Regions from separate parts of the Homo sapiens genome. Here region 1 is linked to region 2. Evidence: fine-mapped expression QTL. A gene starts in region 2. The other region holds a variant in brackets. All regions are shown on one strand. Distances are from middle to middle.

The links. PIP is the estimated chance that this variant, and not a neighbour inherited with it, causes the effect.
Region 1: its variant is fine-mapped to the expression of MRPL38 in whole blood (TOPMed, PIP above 0.99).

What each region holds. Positions count from the first base shown.
Region 1 is chr17:75,856,037-75,858,942 of GRCh38, reverse strand. It overlaps a transcript of WBP2 not described here. Among named protein-coding and RNA genes, the nearest start is that of WBP2, 2.2 kb to the right of the region's middle. RefSeq lists an enhancer at 1,989-2,784 and a silencer at 2,853-2,906. The variant C/T (reference allele first, on the strand shown) is at 1,447.
Region 2 is chr17:75,903,399-75,906,276 of GRCh38, reverse strand. MRPL38 (mitochondrial ribosomal protein L38) reads left to right here and starts at 1,393. Exons shown (of 9, transcript NM_032478.4): 1 at 1,393-1,468; 2 at 1,558-1,737. The coding sequence starts at 1,402. RefSeq lists silencers at 988-1,467, 1,478-1,527, 1,548-1,597.

The DNA of each region.
Region 1 (2,906 bases), 47 kb after region 2:
TATGTTTTTGTAAAACTTAGAAATTCTGGACATTGTAGCCGGAGCTGGTCAAGCTTGTTATCTCTGCACTGCAACTTCCTCTTCTTGTCATTTCCCCTCCTGTCAGGAGGCCTCACTGTAGCCACAGTATTGTGAATGAATAATTGTGGGGTTGTTTTTTTTTTTTGAGTTAGAGCTTTCCTCTCGTTGCCCAGGCTGGAGTGCAGTGGCTTGATCTCAGCTCACTGCAACCTCCGTCTCCAGGGTTCAAGCGATTCTCCTGCCTCAGCCTCCCGAGTAGCTGGGATTACAGGTGACCGCTACCACACCCAGCTAATTTTTTGTATTTTTAGTAAAGACGGGGTTTCACCACGTTGGCCAGGCTGGTCTCAAATTCCTGACCTCAGGTGATCCACCTTCCTCAGCCTCCCAAAGTGCTGGGATTACAGGCATGAGCCACTGCGCCCGGCCTGTGTATTTTATTTCTTAAAAAGAGCCTCCAGATCACTTGAGTCCAGGAGTTCCAAGGAAGCAGTGAGCTATGATCGCACCTGGGTGACAGAATGAGACCCTGTCTCAAAAAACAAAAACATAAACAACCAAGACAGCCTCCAAAATTGTATAAGCTTCAAGGCCTGGCAAAACCTGAACTTGCTCCTGTCTCCAACGTATTTGGCAAAGGGGTGGGAGAGGGGTGGGCAGGTTGTCCCCATCTTCCCATTTATGGTCCTTAGAGCAGCCAATGCTGCCTGCTCTTTGCTGGGGGGATTTTCCTTTTTTTCTTTTTCTTTTCTTTGAGACAGAATCTTCCTTTGTTGCCCAGGCTGGAGTGCACTGGGACGATCTTGGCTCACTGAAACCTTCGCCTCTCAGGTTCAAACAATTCTCATGTCTCAGCCTCCCTATTAGCTGGGATTACAGGAACCACGCCACCATGCACAACTAATTTTTGTATTTTTGCGTTTTTTTTTTTTTTTTTGGGATGGAGTTTTGCTCTTGTTGCCCAAGCTGGAGTGCAATGGCGTGATCTCGGCTCACTGCAACCTCCACCTCCCAGGTTCAAGGGATTCTCCTGCCGCAGCCTCCCGAGTAGTTGGGATTACAGGCGCGCGGATTACAGGCGCTTACAGGCGCACAACACCACACCCGGCTAGTTTTTGGTATTTTTTAGTAGAAACGGGGTTTCTCCATGTTAGCCAGCTGGTCTTGAACTCCTGACCTCAGGTAATCCGCCGACCTTGGCCTCCCAAAGTGCTGGGATTACAGGTGTGAGCCACCGCGCCCGGCCTAATTTTTGTATTTTTATAGAGATGGGATTTTGCCATGTAGTCCAGGCTGGTCTCAAACTCCTGGCCTCAAGTGATCCACCCACCTTGGCCTCCCAAAGTGCTGGGATTACAGGCACGGCACCAGGCCTGGATTTTGCTTTTCTTTTTCTTTTTTCTGAGATGGAGTCTTGCTCTGTCG[C/T]CTAGGCTGGAATGCAGTGGCATGATCTTGGCTCACTGTAACATCTGCCTCCCAGGTTCAAGCGATTCTCCTGCCTCAGCCTCCCGAGTAGCTGGGATTACAGGTGCCCGCCACCATGCCCGGCTAATTTTTGTATTTTTAGTAGAGATGGAGTTTCACCATGTTGGCCAGGCTGGTCTTGAACTCCTGACCTCAGGTGATCCACCTGCCTTGGCCTCCCAAAGTGCTGGAATTTGGCTCACGCCTTTGGCGTGAGCCACAAACCCCGGCCTGCTTTTCTTTTTTAAATTTACATATTATTTATTTATTTTTATTTTATTTTATTTTGAGATGGAGTCTCACTCTGTCACCCAGGCTGGAGTGCAGTGGCGCAATCTCAGATCACTGCAAGCTCTGCCTCCCGGGTTCACGCCATTCTCCTGCCTCAGCCTCCCAAGTAGCTGGGACTACAGCCGCCCGCCACCACGTCCGGCTAATTTTTTTTTTTTTTTTGTATTTTTAATAAGGGGTTTCACTCTGTTAGCCAGGATGGTCTCGATCTCCTGACCTCGTGATCCGCCCGCCTCGGCCTCCCAGAGTGCTGGGATTACAGGCGTGAGCCACGCGCCCGGCCTAAATTTATATTTTAAACGCACATAGGAAAAAAAAATTAAACAGTACCAAAGAGTACAATGCATACTGACATACCGAGTCACCAATCCACCCCAAATTCCTAGACCCATGTCTCAAAAATGCCACAGACATTTTCTGATGGATCTTTGCAAAAATTTTCTATCTAGATCCTATTTTTTATACAAATACAACTATATGTATACAGCATTCTGTGCTTAATAACCCTTGATGATCTTCCCATATCAGCACATAGTCTGACTTAATTCTTTTTAAAGACTGCAGAGATTGCAGGCGCCAAAATACATCTAACCATTGGGGCAGATTTCATTATGACTATCCTTAACCCACTGTACTTGTCCCGCAAGGTCCAACCTGGTATTGCACAGGACCTCACAGAACGCTGCTGTTTCCTGATCTTTTCTAGTGAGGCAGCTTTGTTTCTTCACATAGGAGACCTCCCTGGAAAGCGAAGTCAAGCAGGTGGATCTAGAGGTTGGCCACCACAGTCAGGAAAGCAGCTGTCTACTGAAAAGCAAACTCTAATTCCTTAACATTAACGAGTACCGGAACTACCACGTGGGAAGTGCAGCCCCCTCTCTCCGCCTCACGGATTCAGCTCGGAGGTGCAGGGGTTTGGTGGGGGGCGGTTAGGGAATGACAGCTGCCCCGTGGAGGACGCCCAGGGCTGGGTCACGAGCTGACAGGAGTCAGCCTTATTCTGTAAATCCTAGTTATCAGGATGCCGGTTTCGCGCCGTGCCCAGTCCCACTCAGCCTTCAGTCTTCCGGCCGGGACCCCGCTGGGCGCTAAGGGGGGAGCGGCGCCACCGCGAGGCCGGAGAGGGGGCT
Region 2 (2,878 bases):
TAGGGCAGGAGGGCCAGGGCTGGGGCAAAGGAGGGTCCCAGATTCCCCAGGCTACCAAGTTTTGCCATGGTAGAACTGGATCACAAGGGCAAGCCTGAGTCCTGCCAGAAACATTCACATCTGCACTTAACCAGGTCACTTCTGCCTTTGTGTGGATAATGAGAAGTTGGAGATAGTTGAGCTAACACACAAACCACTGCGAGCGCTTTCCAGAGGGTAATCTTTTCATCCTGACAGCTGTCAGGTAAGCACTAGTGTTAACCTGCTTTTTCCCAAATGAGGAAACCACAAGGAAGACAGTAAGGTCACGATCTGGTTTTTTTTTGGGGGGGGGGAGGGGCATTTTGAGACGGTGTCTCACTCTGGCACCGAGGTGGTGGCGCAATCTCGTCTCACTGCAGCTTCTGCCTCCCGGGTTCAAGTTAATTCTTGTGCCATAGCCTCCTGAGTAGCTGGGATTACAGGCGCCTGCCACCACGCCCGGCTAATTTTTGTATCATTAGTAGAGATACAAAAATTTTTGTATCTTTAGGGTTTTGCCATGTTCGTAGGGCTGGTCTCAAACTAATTACCTCAGATGATCCGCCCACCTCGGCCTCCCAAAGTGCTGGGATTACAGGTATGAGCCACCGCGCCCAGCCACAATCTGGGTTTTTATTACTATTATTTTATTATTATTATTATTATTGAAATAGAGTTTTCACTTTTGTCGCCCATGCTGGAGTGCAGTGGCGCGATCTCGGCTCACTGCAGCCTCCGCCTCTGCCTCCCAGGTTCAAGCGAGTCTCCTCCCTCAGCCTCCCGAGTAGCTGGGATTACAGGCGTATGCCACGCCCGGCTAATTTTTGTATTTTGAGTAGAGACGGGTTTTCACCGTGTTGGCCAGGATGGTCTCGATCTCCTGACTTCGTGATCCACCCGCCTTGGCCTCCCAAAGTGCTGGGATTCCCGGCGTGAGCCACCGCGCCCAGCCCTCAATCTGGGTTTTAAACCCAAGCAGAGTCCGGAATCGGAGCTCGCACCCCTTCTCCCAACCAGGCCTGCGTCCCTGGGGAAATCAGGACGCAGCGTCCAGGGGTTGGAGGAGGGCCCCGGCGGCCGACCCCGGTCTGTGCCGCCCCCTGGTGGCCAGCCATGGGCGAGCATATGACTGCTCTCGGCTCCGCCCCGCCGTCCAACGGGCACTTCCGGAGCCGGGCGTCTACAGACCGCGGCCACCTTCCACCTGCGCCCGAGGCAGACGGTGCAGGGGCCTCCGGGACAGGCGTCTGAGGCCTGCTCCGCAGCGCGGGCCCGGGGGCGGGCCTAGGGGCGGGGCCTGCTGTGGTGCGCTCAGGCACCGCGCTGGCCACCTGTGCCCGGGTCCTAGTGGCGGCCGCAGTGTCGCAGGCCGGAGGGAAGATGGCGGCGCCCTGGTGGCGAGCCGCGCTGTGCGAGTGTCGGAGATGGCGGGGCTTCAGCACCTCGGGTGAGGGGTGGGCAGCTCTGCGGGGGGGGGGGGGGGGGCTGTCGCCCGAGCTGTGGGGCGCCGGCCTTACGTCTTCTCTCTGCCCGCAGCCGTCCTGGGCCGCCGGACACCCCCGCTGGGGCCGATGCCCAACAGTGACATCGACTTGAGCAACCTGGAGCGGCTGGAGAAGTACCGGAGCTTCGACCGCTACCGGCGCCGAGCAGAGCAGGAGGCGCAGGCCCCGCACTGGTGGCGGACCTACCGAGAGTATTTCGGGGAGAAGACAGGTGCGGGGCGACTGGAGCAGGGGCTGCAGCCACCGCCCGGGGAACTCGGGACCCGCCGGCGTTTTCCCCGGGCGCTGGGCGAGCCTTGCCGGCGCCCTTGTGGATGCTGGGGACGCTGGGAGGGCCTGCCTGCAGACCTGTGTGCGCTATCGGCAGCTTAATCACCCCAGGATTTTTCACACCTTCTGCACCTCATTCTTGGAAAATTCGCTCCCCCTACTATTAGAGTTCCAGCTCCTAAAATATTTGCTCCTAAAATCTTGACCACCTGACTTTCCGGATTGGGATGCCGTTCTGTGCGCCTCAAATACTCTGTAGGTAACTCTGGCCACACTGCATTCTGACTGTGCGCTGCCTCTCCCCAGATTGTAAGCGCCCTGTTGACAGGGATCCTGCTTGTCTTGCCCTCCATTGGATCCTTGCACCCGAACAGTGCAAGGATGTACATGTGCAATACTTTGCTGAATGAAATTAAAGGCCTGGGCAGGGTGACTCAAAAAAGAACCCAACCTGGCCGGGCGCGGTGGCTCACGCCTGTAATCCCAGCACTTTGGGAGGCCTAGGCGGGCGGATCACCTGAGGTCGGGAGTTCGAGACCAGCCTGACCAACATGGAGAAACCCCGTGTCTGCTAAAAATACAAAATTAACTGGGCGTGGTGTCGCATGCCTGTAATCCCAGCTACTCGGGAGGCCTCTGAGGCAGGAGAATCGCTTGAACCCAGGAGGCAGAGGTTGCGGTGAGCCGAGATCGCGCCATTGCACACCAGCCTGGGCAACAAGAGCGAAACTCCGTCTCAAAAAGAAAAAAAAAAAAAGACCCCAACCTTTAAGGAACTTACAATTTATGGAGTATATGCTTTTCTTTTCTTTTCTTTTCTTTAGCATTTATAGAGGCAGTTTTGTGGTGGTTAAAGGCACAAGCGTGGAATCTAAATAGCCCGATTTAAATCCTAGCTCAGCCTCTCGGATAATGTCCTTGAGCTTGTTTCAACTGTAAAATAAAATAATTGTGTCTTTGCTACAAAATTGCTGTGAGGATTAAAAGAGGCAATTCATTGGCATTTTTGCCTAATGCCATCTCTGATGAGGGCTCAGTATGTTTTCGTTATTATTATTTTGTTTTGTTTTGTTTTAAGGCAG